Linked DNA regions of Homo sapiens. The protein of the gene in region 2 interacts with the protein of the main gene of each other region in a pairwise test. Each region holds a gene or a part of one and is shown on either strand. Other genes may lie near its edges.

What was found. Proteins that work in one complex are often made in the same cells at the same time.
Region 1: the proteins of NME7 (region 2) and REL interact in binary tests that used the Homo sapiens proteins (3 or more experiments, as listed by UniProt).

The regions. Positions count from the first base shown.
Region 1 is NC_000002.12:60,877,585-60,884,573, forward strand, and holds the start of REL (proto-oncogene c-Rel), read left to right. Parts: upstream 1-3,989; 5' UTR 3,990-4,256; coding exon 4,257-4,266; intron 4,267-6,989. UniProt on the Homo sapiens protein: Proto-oncogene that may play a role in differentiation and lymphopoiesis.
Region 2 is NC_000001.11:169,294,709-169,301,803, forward strand, and holds part of NME7 (nucleoside diphosphate kinase homolog 7), read right to left. Parts: intron 4,056-7,095; coding exon 3,848-4,055; intron 1-3,847. UniProt on the Homo sapiens protein: Possesses an intrinsic kinase activity. Displays 3'-5' exonuclease activity with a preference for single-stranded DNA. Does not seem to have nucleoside diphosphate kinase activity.

The DNA of each region.
Region 1 (6,989 bases), on a different chromosome or scaffold from region 2:
ATACACTGTATGAATCCATTCATATCAAGTTCAAAAACAGATACAACTAATTATTGTCAAGGAGGTCAGAATATCGGGTGCCTTTTGGGGGTGGATATTGACTAGAAGCAGCTCCGAGGCAGCCTTCTGAGTGGCTGGCTAGAAGCGTTCTGTATCTTAATCCGGGTAGTGGGTTACAAAGACTCTCCTTGATGACACTCTGAAGAGGCTTCTCTGAGCCCTGTTCTCCACTAGGCTTCAGCCTTGGCCTGTAACTACTGCAGATACTGAGCACACATTATTTTATCCATGCCCCACACTAACAGACCTAAACAAATACTAGCATGCCCCTAGGATGATGACTTCGGTCACCTTTAGTTACTGCCTGGGAAAGCTCAAGAATGCCAAAATAATATATGTTTGTTCCAGTTCTATGAACCTATGGTGACCACAACGTTTGATTTTATTCTGAAACTGTTGTTAACTGTATCCATTCAATTTAATGATGGGTGTCTTGTTCTTTCAACAACAAAAAAATATCTTATGGAGCAATTTCACTTTTGACCCCTCACTCTTACTTTTTCATATTCTGCGATCACAGACTCAGAACACATCCATTTGCTAATCAGATTTGTTTCTTTCCTGGAGGATTGTGACTTTTTAACTGCTGCATCATTAAAAAATTTTTTTTCATATGTTTAAGGTAAGTTCTTTAGCATCAACAGTTCTAAAGGTTCTAAAGGTTCTCTGCCCTTTCAGATCAGTGCCCACTGTTTTATAACATATATTTGTAACATCCCCTTTAGTAGGTTGAAGTGAAATTCATAATCTACCTTACATGAATATTTTCAAATAAATAAAAATTATGTTCTAACAGCAATATCAAGAATTAAAAAGAAAGCAATTTCTAGGAAAATAATATCGACTACAGTATGTAAATGCTTGGGCATAACTACATCAAAAGACATAATGGGGCCAGATGCAGTGGCTCATGCCTATAATCCCGGCACTTTGGGAGGCTGAGGCGGGAAGATCATTTGAGCCCAGGAGTTCGAGACCAGCCTGGGCAACATAGCAAGACCCCGTCTCTTAAAAAAAAAAGACATAATGGGTTGGGTGTGGTAGCACGGGCATGTAGTCCCAGCTGTTTGGGAGGATGAGGTAGGAGGATAGCTTGAGCCCAGGAGGTGGAGGCTGCAGTGAGCTGTGTTCATGCCAGTGCATTCCAGCCTTGGTGACAGAGCAAGACCCTGTCTCCAAAAAAAAAAAAAAGACATAATGAAGTTGCCAGATGTTTGTACTTGTACCTAGAATCAGTGTGAATGCAAGTGCTGCAAATGCAGCCTGATACTACTGTGGTTTTTTGTTTGTTTGTTTTCTGAGACACAGTCTTGCTCTGTCATCCAGGCTAGAATGCAATGGTGTGATCTCGGCTCACTGCAACCTCCACCTCCCCAGTTCTAGCGATTCTCGTGCCTCAGCCTCTCAAGTAGCTGGGATTACAGGAGCACACCACTACGCCCAGCTAATTTTTGTATTTTTAGTAGCGACAGGGTTTCACCATGTTGCCCAGGCTGGTGTTGAACTCCTGACCTCAGGTAATCCACCCGCCTCGGCCTCCCAAAGTTCTGGGATTACAGGTGTGAGCCACCACAGCTGGCATACTGTGTTGTATTGATGAGCTGTCAGAGTTACAATTTTCCAACTTTTAAAACATTTTTTAATAAAAGTCTGCCCTCAATTTATACAATATTTGCATTCCTGGGAAATTCAGTATATATTAAAAACCATACAAAAATATTTTATATCTATATATGAAAGGGAGTTGTGTTCTAACCATATATTATTAAAATAGGCATTTCAACTACATGAAAGTGAATGTTTGATGAGACGTTTGAAGGTCATGAGGATGAGGGACAATTCTTGACTGTGCTCTTTCCTATCTCAAGGACCTGCTGCCTGCTGTTCCCCCAGCTGGAATGTTCTTTCCCTGAATCTCCCTGTGAATGGCCTTTTTTTTTTTTTTTTTTTTTTTCTGAGACGGAGTCTCGCTCTGTCGCCCAGGCTGGAGTGCAAGTGGCATGATCTCGGCTCACCGCAACCTCCGCCTCCCAGGTTCAAGCAATTCTCTACCTCAGCCTCCTGAGTAGCTGGGGTTACAGGCGCCCGCCACCACGCCTGGCTAATTTTTGTATTTTTAGTAGAGACGGGGTTTCACCATCTTGGCCAGACTGGTCTTGAACTCCCAACCTCGTGATCCACTTGCCTCAGCCTCCCAAAGTGCTGGGATTACAGGCATGAGCCACTGCGCCTGGCCGGCTCTTTCTTAAACTGAGGACTCAGCTCAAATGTCACCTCCTCAGAACTTTCCTCTCCCCCAGTCACTTTTCATTTTGAAATTCCTTCAGAGAACTGAAAATGTTTTCCGTCTCTTTGAAATGTATGTACATATTTTAAAAAGCTAAATAAGCCTCTTGCTAGTTTTGCGTCCTCAGAAGGTCTTTCTTGCGGGCCTCGGAGCCATCTCTTGGAAATGTGAACATCAAGGATGGTGCTCCATGTTTCTGTCTCTAGGAGGGTTTAAGCCTTGGCTCTTGGTTCCAAGATAACTTCCCATTATTTTCCTTTGGATAAAGACAATTAATAGGTATGTAATGGATTGTACGTGCCTGACCATATGAAAAGGTGAGATTTCCTTTTTTTTGGTCTTTGCACTCTCTTCAGTGGATTGCCTGTGATGTGCATCATGGTACGTTTTAGTACATATCCAATAATAAAACTGTTTCATTCTTTTGTTGTACATTGCGCATTTCGTGGAAAGAACAGTTTGGGGTTGGCAGGATATTTTAAATTATTTGCCCATATGGGTCCCCCAGTTTTGGGCACTTGTATGGCAGGCTGATATTCCCCATTACCTCTCCGTACTAATTTTAACTAGTAAGGGACAGGGGCAAGGGCATGGAGCTTTGGAGTCAGACAACCCTGGCTTTAAACTGTGCCTTTTATCAGCATTCTGAAGTACTGTATGTTGAAGTAACTTCTCTGAACCCCGAATACTTCATCTATAAAGTTAGGAATAATAAATACGTCATAGATTAAGTATGGACATTATCTGATGCATAGCAGGTACTATTCAAATGAAGGAAACGAAGTTATCCTAGGTCCTTTAATGCACTAAATGTGTGCTCCATTTCCGCCTTTCTTGGCATCTGTGTGAAATCTCAGGATATAGTGTCCACTAAACTTCAGTGCACTGCCTAATGAGACAACGAACTCCAAGTGCGGACCTTTTGAGTTTAAACGGGTTTCAGTAGGTAAAATACGTAAAGTTCACAGTACCCTCGCAATTTAGATGGAGGAAAAAAAATCAGTCGGGGGGGGGGTCCCCGTATGCAAATACAGGAATTACAGAAGAAGACAGGACCCCCGCCGCAGCACCACTTCCCCCTACAGGGCGCAACGTCCCGCCGCTGGCGCGGGGGTGGAGATTTGCATGTGCGAAGTCGGGAAGAGGGGGAACCACCTCTCGAAAACCCCGGCCGTCGCCCTCCCAGGCCGGGAGAGTCGGCCCCGCGCGCCCCCAAAAGCTCCCCAGCGGCCGGCCCTCTCTACGTCATCCGCACCCTCCCGCCCGCTCCTGAACTTTAAACCACACTCGGAAGAACAACCTGGAGGAGGGGGATTTCTCAGGAGCCAGCGGCCTTCTCACGCTGCTAGCCGTCACCTCCCGGCTCCCGCCGTTCCCTGCGCTCCCGAAGCCCACCCCAAGCTCCCGCTCCCTCGACCCCCTCCCAAGCCAGCCGCCGCAGCAGCGCCGGGGGCGTATGCGTGGGGGCCGGCGGGGAGCGTGCGCGGGGACAGGCAGGGGCGGGGCGCTGGGGGCGGTCGCGCGCGCGGCGGCCGCGAGGTCGCCCCGCCCACGCCTCCGGGTGAGGGTTGCTGCGTCGGGCCTACGTCAGCCGCGGGAAATTCCCCTCCCGCCAGGCTGCTCGCCTCTCGGCTGGGCCAGCACTCGGCTCTCCCCGCTCCGCCCCCTGCCCCTGGCTCCCGTACGGTGGACGGCGACGCTGGGTGACCCGGGGTGCAAGAATTCAGGGGTTGGGAAGGTGTGAGCCGCAAACCCAGCGGAGGGCGGGAAGAAGGAGGAGGCCTCTAGGGTGGTCGGGGGACTGGGGGCCCCGCCGGCAGAGGTCCCTCGGCCTCCTGACTGACTGACTGCGGCCGCCTCCGGCCAGGACGCTGGGAGCTGCCTGCGGGAAGGTGCGGGGAGCGGAGCCATGGCCTCCGGTGAGTGTTCATGGGGCGCGGGCCTGGGCCGGGGGAAAGGAGCTCTTCTGAAGGGGGTCCTGCCGCAGTGAGTTTAGGGAGCTCAGTTTTTGCTGGGGCGCGTTCTGTCTTTAAAATCTCATATGGTAAAATTGTCAGCTTTTAAAAAAGTTACCTGCTTCAGGGTTTGCGTGCAGAATCCAAGCCACGCTCTGTAATTCGATCCTGTTGTCATAGCAGGAACCTTAGAAATTCCCAACGACTTGATTTTAGGATTAGGGAAGTCATAAGCGAACCAAAGGAGGACGAAGAGTTCTCATTAAAAATGTATATGTATTGAAGATGGTGGTTTTATGTTTTAGAACAGGAATGAGGAACCTTCAGACCTCGGGCAAGCTCTCTCCCCCTTTTTAGTTTAATTTCATCAAATGCAAAGAGGTGATCCCCCTTGTACTGACAGTTGTACAAAATGTGTCACGGCTTTAAAAATCATCCGTGGTATTTTAACACGAATTAGAAAATCCGTGGTATTTTAAGTGTTAATGTTGCTTCGACCAAGTGTAGGCCGGGCGCGGTGGCTCATGCCTGTATTCCCAGCACTTTGGGAGGCCGAGGCGGGTGGATAACCAGAGGTCAGGAGTTTGAGACCAGCCTGGCAAACATGGTGAAACCCCGTCTCTACTAAAAATACAAAAATCAGCGGGGCGTGGTGGCGCGCGCCTGTAATCCCAGCTACTCGGGAAGCTGAGGCAGGAGAATCGCTTGAACCTGGGAGGTGGAGGTTGCAGTGAGCCGAGATCGCGCCCCTGCACTCCAGCCTGGGCGACAGAGGGAGACCCTGTCTCTATTTAAAAAAAAAAAAAATGTAGTTTTTACTGTGAGATAAAGCTCAAGGTTCCTAATCTGACGAATAGAGACGTTGAATCCCCCTTCCTCCTCGCTGGAAATAAGGGGAAAGAGGAGTTTTAGAATATCCGAGCTTTAAAATAATGAGTAGGAATGAATACAACTTTATCACTTATGTGACTATATATTTTCCCTTAATAAATGCTCGATCTCTCCCTTTGGGGGGGAATAAGTTTGTAAGAAACATTGCAGAGCAAGAAAGTCTCCTATATACACAGATGTGGTTGGGGCTGCCTGGAGCTTAAGGTTGAGGGGGACGGGAGAGCCGGGGCGGGGGGATAAATCAAGTAGCCTGGGGTCGAGTTGGTCTTTTACCAGGATTTTGGCAAGGTGAGTGGGGGACACTTTCCAGACAGAGGAAGCAGCGTGAGCAAAGGCAGGGAGGGCTAAATGCATGTTAAATGCTGTACTAAGAGAATGAAGAGGGGGCCCCGTTTATGAACTTGACTCTTATCCCCAAACTGCCTGGTCCAGTGACCCTCAGAAGTAGGCTGATGTCTAGTAGAGATGAGGAAGTAGGAAGCTTAAAGAACCTTTTTAAAAGGTTGAGCAGAACAATGCCATAGCTATTGCTGTAGGCAGAAAAGGAAATTGGGGTGTTTCACATGACATTTGATTTCAGTTTGTTTGTGGTTGTGAGAATACTAAGTGTAGTTTAAAATATTTCAACTTTCCCTTTTCCCACTTAAGTGACACCAGACTTTCAGATAATCGTGTAAATTTATGAATTCAAAGCATGTGTAGATTAGAAGTGCTAAGATGACTTCAAATATTTTGTTAATGTATTGGTTATCAGAAAGATTTTGTTTGGAAGTAATGGAGAATGCCTAGCATTATAAGTAAGTTCAGGCTCTTGGCGATTTAATCAAACTTTATTGATATATTGCATGAATTTAATACTTCTAATTTTTTCAGTTGAGAGAGGAAACAACCATTTCTATATAGAGTATTGTAAGACCCACAGGATTTTAAAATTTGATACAATTTAAATTTGTTCATTGACACTGTATTTTGTGCTGTTGTGAGGAGGAAGGATTCCCTAAAAGTAAGGAGGAAATGTTTAAAGAAATGGAAAGTTTTAAAGGTTTAGAAGTTGAAGGGTGATTAACTTTTTTTTTTTTTTTTTTGGTCTTTTCTAAGAGTTGCATTAAAATGGGACTATTTAAAATGTAACAAGTTATTTAAATTGTAATTCAGTTGTTAGAAAACTGCCAGGCCTGGAATAAAAAAAAAAAAATGTTTACAGGAATCTGTGTACTTTTCCTTAATCTGTTATAAAGACCTTAGAGAAAGAAAAAGATTCACTAATAAAATTCTAAATTCCTATTCTGTTTTGAAACAGTAATTTAACCGGAAGAGTGACCAAAAAAAAAAAAAAAAAGAAATTGCTTAGTTTTTCATTGTCTAGTTTAGATTCTGTTTGTAGTAAGGTAGTATTAAAACCTCAGAAAGTAACTTTTATTCATTACGAAGTATTTAAGAGCATTTCTTCATTTCTTACCAGATGTCATATGTAAATAGGTATATGTAGTTGAATATGTGATAGCTATAATGTAAAAGTAACATAAATCATAATCTTATAAGCAAAATTATGTAAGTTAGAATGTAGTTTAAAATCATGTATATAATATGATTCTAAATTTTGTTTAGATAAGTTAGCAGATTAATTAGGATTTCACAGCTTGTATTAAGCTGCCTTTCGTTGCTTTTTAAAAAAATTACACCTTGATCACAGTCTTTTGACATAATTAATAATAGATATAGTGAAGAAAAATGTTCCCAAACCCATCTAAGGTATGCATAGTAGGCAGTTGTTGCTTTTGTATATTTATTCTATT
Region 2 (7,095 bases):
GGGTTCATACAAATAATAGGATATTTCAGGAACTAATGGCAGAAAGAGGTTAAAAAAATTAAATGCACAAAATATAAACGAATATGTTTAAGACATTTCTTTAGGTGAAATGGCAATGGTAGCTGCTCTGGATTGGATGTTTGTTCCTTCCAAATCTCACGTTGAAATTTGATCCCCAATGTTGGAGATAGGGCCTAATGGGAGGTTTGGATAGTAGGGGTAAATCCCATGAATAGATTAATGCCCTCCCTCCAAGGTGAGCGAATTTTCCCTCTATTAGTTCCTCTGAAAGCTGGTTGTTAAAAACAGCCTGACACCTCTCCCGGTGGCTTGCTTCTTCTCTTACCATGTGATCTGTGCACACGCAGGCTCCCTTTTACCTTCCACCTCAGGCAGTGGAAGCTGCCTGAGACCCTCACGAGATGCAGATGCCCAATCTTGATGTCCCAGCCATCAGGACTATGAGCCAAATAAACCTTTTTCCTTTATAAATGACCCAGCCTCAGGTATTCCTTCACAGCAACACAAAATGGACTGAGACAGTAGCTAACTTAACAAAAGTTGCTCCACTACAAGATATGCTAAAATCTAACAAGTATATTTATGCTCAAATTTATTAAATAATCTAGTAGAAATAAAAAAGAAATGGATGGCATAAGGTGGTAATAGGGTGAAATAGGCAGGAAATATCAGTAAACATGGTAGTGACTTTCAGTTCAGCCTCAATTATTTCCTTCATTAATTAGATATGTTTATTATTTTTATAATGCTTTAAAATATGATTGGAAATTTAACTATACAAAACAATACCACATTTACAATAAATGTCTACTACTAAGATATGGTCAAAGACTATAATTGCTCTCTTGCATGTATCTTTAACTTCCTTAACACTTCCGTCACATTTGTTTCACAAAACCACAGCCATGGTTAAAAGCCAGCTCTCCACCTACTCCTTACCTTCAGCCATGCAGTTGAACAGGCTGGAGAACCACACTCATAGTTCATGGCCATGAACACTACATGGGCCATTAATTCAGTATAGCAATCACACACCACATTTCCCTGATCTATTCCTTTTCCAGATCACCATTTCACATATTCTTCTCTCCCTTCAGACCAACCAATACCTTATACCTCATCCTCACTTTCAGCTGTTTTGATCTTGCTTCCTACTTAAGAATCAGCATCTGTGTTCACATATTCTCCCTTCCCATCTGTTGCTATAGACGAGTACCTGAGAGGCACACCTGCCTAATCTCTCCACCTGGGTTCTAATTTCCATTTCCTTTTGCCTAATTAATGAAATTGCTCCAACAAGTCTTCCTCTTTTTCCTACATCATCAATTTTTTACCCAATACCTCTCCTCTTAAAAAAAATTGATACTACTTTTCTTGACAGCTACCACCTCATCTCTTTGCAGGAAAACTCCTCAAAAAAACTCCTCAAAAAAAAAGTTGTCTATATTCACTAACTACAATTCCCGTCCCACAATTTTCTTTTAAGTCTACTCCACACAGGGTTTTGCCTCCACCTCCCCATCAACATTCACCTTACAAAGTTCACCAATGATATCCACATTGCAAAATTTAACAATCCATTCTTAGTCCTCTTCTTACTTGCCTTATTTGACACCACTGGTCATTCTCTCATTTTAGAATATTTGATTCACTTGGCCTCCAGGACATAATTATCTCTCAGTTTTTCCTCTTACCTCTCTGGTGGCTCCTCTTCAACCTCCTTTGCTGCCTTCTTCTCCTTACCTTTTATCAAGATGTAGCTTCATCTTTGGTCCTCTTTACTTCTCTATCTATACCTTCTCCTTGGTAATCTCAACCAGTCTCCCGGCTTTAAATACCATTTATGTGCTGATAACTCTAAGCTGTCACACTAATTTTTTTCATCAGTCTAATTGGAAAACTAACAAACAGGTTAAGTTTATAAATGTCCAAAACGTTAACTCCTGATTGTCCATTCATTCTGACTCTAGCCACAGTTTTCCTCATTTCAGTTTACGTAAATTCTATCCTTCTGATAATCAGGCTAAGAACTTTGGAGTAATACTTGGTATCTTTTTCTCATACTCTACATTCAATCTAGCAGAAAATCTTGTTTATTTGACCTTCAACCGTTAATATATATTTTAAAATATATTTGTATACTTCTTTCATTATTACCACCCAGGTCCAAGCCATCATCTCACTGGGTTATTCCAACAGACTCCTGATTAGGCTCCCTGTTGCTGTTTTTGCCCTCTATAGTCATTCTTTTTTTTTTCCCCCGAGATGGAGTCTCACTCTGTCACCCAGGCTAGAGCACAGTGGCATGATCTCAGTTCACTGCAACCTCCACCTCCCTGGTTCAAGCAATTCTCCCACCTTAGCCTCTGGAGTAGCTGGGATTACAGGTGGGCGCCACCACACCCAGCTAATTTTTGTATTTTTAGTAGAAACAGGGTTTTACCATATTGGCCAGGCTGGTCTCGAACTCCTGGCCTCAAATGATCTGCCCGCCTTGGCCTCCCAAAGTGCTGGGATTACAGGTGTGAGCCACCACTCCCAGCCTCTATAGTCATTCTTAATGCAACAGCCAGAATGATCCTTTTAAATGGCAAGTGGAAGATATCAGTCCTTTGTTCAAAACCCTAAAATGGCTCTCTATTTTTTCAGAGAAAAATCTAAAAGTACTACTACGGCCTATAAGACCATATAATCTTTCCCCTAATTACCTCTGTAACCTCATCACCCTCTTCCTCCCTCTCTCATTCCTATCCAACCACACTGTCCTCTTTGCTGTTAGTTGACCATTCCAGACAGAAATATGCTATTCAAGGAATAGCGAGATGGTTAGTGTGCCTGGAACACAATGATTAAGATAGAGATTGATCAAAGATACAGTTAGAGATAGATATGGGCCAGACTAGATAGAGCATTGGAGGCCACAATAAAGACTTTAGATTTTATTCTAGAAGAGACAGAAATTCACTGAAGGGTTTTCAGCAGGTGAATGTTAATCTGATTTGTCTTTAAAAGATCACTGGGCATAGCTGATTTTACTTGGGTAAGGTAAAATTTTCATTAATTGAGTGTAAGAAAAGAGGAAAAAAGAATTTGGAGGCTATTGTAGCAGTTCTGGCAAAATATAATAGTGATTCAGACCACAATGATCAGATTCAGGGTTTATTTTGAAAGAGCTGAAGGGACTTGCTGATGAAATGGTAGGAAAAAGAAAGAAATCAATTATAAAACTGTCTAATATTGTTTCATTGCAAACACAACCAGATTAAAAACTACCTTAAGTGAGACACTTCTCACGATGCTAAAAATAAACTTACACTTCTTTAATTCAACCTCAGTATAAATCCAATAAATGCTTTATTTATATGGATTTAAAAATAAGGAGTAGAGAAACTTTCATAAACACTAGCTATATATAGGAAAATAATAGGATGTTAAGCTTGAAAGCACAGTGTTACGTCTGAATCAAAAGGAAATATCTCAAATTATATCTTCTTTTTAATATCTACTAGCCATAAACTGGTATTCTTACATGAATTCAATAATTCAAACATTTAGGAGCCTCAGTAATTTAAGTCTTGGGAACAAGAAACAGGATGAGAAGTGTTTTAATTGGAGAAAACTTACGTTGATCATGATCAGGTTACCAGTTCACAAAGGAGACACACTGAATCACTGTTTGATAGTAGGCAAGATGTCAAAGGTTTTCTCTACTACTAGAGCAGCAGCATAAATCCACCCTAAGTCACCAGTGATAGAAATGCTTTCCTTTGATATAAAACATTTAACAGAACTAGAAGAGCATTAAAATATTTTTAAAACACCTTACTCTGGCCGCAGAAGCAAAAGAATCAGGGCCATGCGCTGCATTTCTTATGCCATCTGTTCCAAAGAGGGCTCTAATGCTTTCAGAAGCATCTGTGCGTGCCACTCCAGAGTTTGCAGGTCCCAGCAGTCTTTTCCATTCACATATAGCATCATCTCTTAAAATCTCCATGGCAATAATAGGACCAGTTGTAATAAACTGGATCAGCTCACTACAAAACAGATAGAAGATTAGTTTGCTTCTTTTTTCTGTCAACTAGGTATTTGTCTTAACGACAGGATATATTTAAATTGGATTATTTCAACATAGACATGAATATTATAATCTTAGAACCATTAAGCATAGTTAATTTTACATGGGCAGGAGAAATTTTTCATAAATTGAGTGTCTTGCAGTGGCTCAATTCACTTCAAATCACTAGTAATGTCAAATTACTGTTACCAGAAAAATCACTGTTCTGTTGAATTAAGACTATTTCATGACTTAAAATGCATACTGTTGACCTATGCTTTTCCCAGTGCTCTAACAGGTACAGAGGATTTTCCTTTTTATTTACATGTGTTTACCACTGCAGTCAAGTACAATTTCACAATATATAGGGATGGATGCCTTGTAACATATTTTTAGTAAGAATTTATTTATTTTTGTGTAAAACTATTAGAATTCAAAGACTGACAAAGAACTCTCTTAATCAATAAACACTGAGCTGGTTTGGTGATAAAAAAAAAAATCCCCAGCAGGCTTCAAGAAATATCCTTTTATTAGCGTAAAAACTACTCTGGGTTATTTCTGTATTAAATTATTAAAGTGTACGCATCGGTTCTTGACTAAAAATCCAGCACTGAGTCACAGTCCCCCAAGGTATAAAAGACAATACTTCATTTTATTTTCTACTTTTATATGTGTACAGGATGCAATGACAAGTTTAACTATGAAATAAGTGACATCCTCCCTCTGACTATATTAAGCAGGGACACAGTACTTTTTAGAGTAAGCCCATGGTTTTCTCTCATCCAAAGTAGAGAGAAGAGATCCTCCTGGAGAAAGGAGCATGGTGTGACAGGCTCTTTTGTGCCCACTAACTTATGACTATTTTTTACACACTTCCTTCCACCCTGCATGTTATATGTCAGCTCCCCTCAGTACTTCCTTTTTAAAACACTCCCATTCATTTTGAAGAATATTTCTAAAAAACAGCATGTACAAAAAAGTATTCTTGTCTTCTATCCTAAGAGTTCTATAATACCTCCTCATACATTTTCTGCCAGACCTTTGCTGCCAAAACAAACAAAACCCCCAAGACCAACCACTAGATTTAAAAAAACCCAAATCAAAGGAGCAAACCATGTTTATTCACTCAATAAGCATTTAATAATTGCCTATAACATATCAGCGTCTGTGCCACAAAAAAGATCCCCCTTCAAGACACTTACAATCTAACGCCCTATTAATACAAAATTCTCAAAACACACAATTGAATAAGCCTATGAATATGGCATGTAACAATATAGGGAAGGATGTGCCTGATCATAGATACTGCTTCATGAAAATTTAATTACTTCACCTAGTCTTTTGTTACATCATTCTCATTAACAGGCAACTAGTTAATTCATTCCTTTAATAAAATTTACTGCATGCAAATCACACATAAATCATTAGACTAGGAGTTGTAAGTTAATGCTATAAACATATACAAAGTTTATACCAAAAGATAATTTCCACCAATTTTCTAGAAAAGTGTATATAGCTATTCTAAGAAGGCTTAGGAATATTTTATAACACTTGATTTGAAATAATCTATAGCATAATAATTTTCTTACATACAAATTTTTTTAAAAACCCACTACTCAGTGCAGGATATCAAATAACATGTCTACTGTGGCCATTTAGTTTGGCTGATGTAACATTCTTTCTTATTAGAAGTGTAAACAGTCTTTGGCAACAGTAATAATAATATGAGCATGCAAAATATTCACTTAAATTTAATTACATGTCAAATATTTAGAATACATAAAGTGTAACATATATTATCTGTTCTATGTCAAGGAACAAAATATATATCAAACTAGTTAAAATAGAAAGGTTCCATGAACATTGCTTTATGTATACAAGACTACCAAAATAGTTTAAAAGTACAACAGGCTACAGTAACCAAAACATCATGGTACTGGTACAAAAACAGACACATAGATCACTGGAACATAATAGAGAACCCAGAAATAAAGCCACACATCTACAGCCATCTGAACTTTGACAAAGTCAACAAAAATAAGCAATGGAGAAAGGATTCTCTATTCAATAAATGGTGCTGGGATACCTGTCTAGCCATAAGCAGAAGAAAGAAACTGGCCCCTTAACATTAACCATATACAAAACTTTACTCAAGATGGATTAAAGATTTAAAAGTAAGACCTCAAACTATAAGAATCCTAGAAGAAAACCTAGGAAACACCATTCTGGACATTGGCCTGGGGAAAGAATTTATGACTAAGTCCTCAAAAGTAATGGCAACGAAAACAAAAATTGACGAGTGGGACTAAAGAGCTTCTGCACAGAAAGCTTCTGCACTAGCAACAGAGTAAAAAGACAATCCACAGAATGAGAGAAAATATTCACAAACTATGCATTCAACAAAGGACTAATATGCAGAATCTGTAACGACCTTAAATAATCAAACAAGCATGAAACAACCCCACTAAAAAAAGAGCAAAAGACATAAATACACACTTCTCAAAAGAACATACAAGCAGCCAATAAGCATACGAAAAAACGCTCAATATCACTAATCATCGGAGAAATGCAAATCAAAACCACAATGAGATACCATTTCACACCAGTCAGAATGGTTATTATTAAAAAGTCAAAAAATAACATGCTGGCAAGACTATAGAGGAAAGAGAATGCTTATACACGGTTGGTGGGAATATTAATTACTCCAGCCATTGTGGAAAGCAGTGTGGATATTTCTCAAAGAACTTAAAACAGAGCTACCATTTAACCTAGCAATTCCATTACTGGGTATATACCCAAAAGAAAAGAAATTCTGCCAAAAAGACACATGCCCTCATACACTCATTGCTGTGCTATTCACAATAGCAAATACATGGAAATAACTCAAGTGCCCATCAGTGGCAGATTGGATAAAGAAAATGTGGTATATATATATAACACAGAATTCTACACAGCCATAAAAAAATAAAATTATGTCCTTGGCAATAATATGGACACAATTGGAGGCCATAATCCTAAAC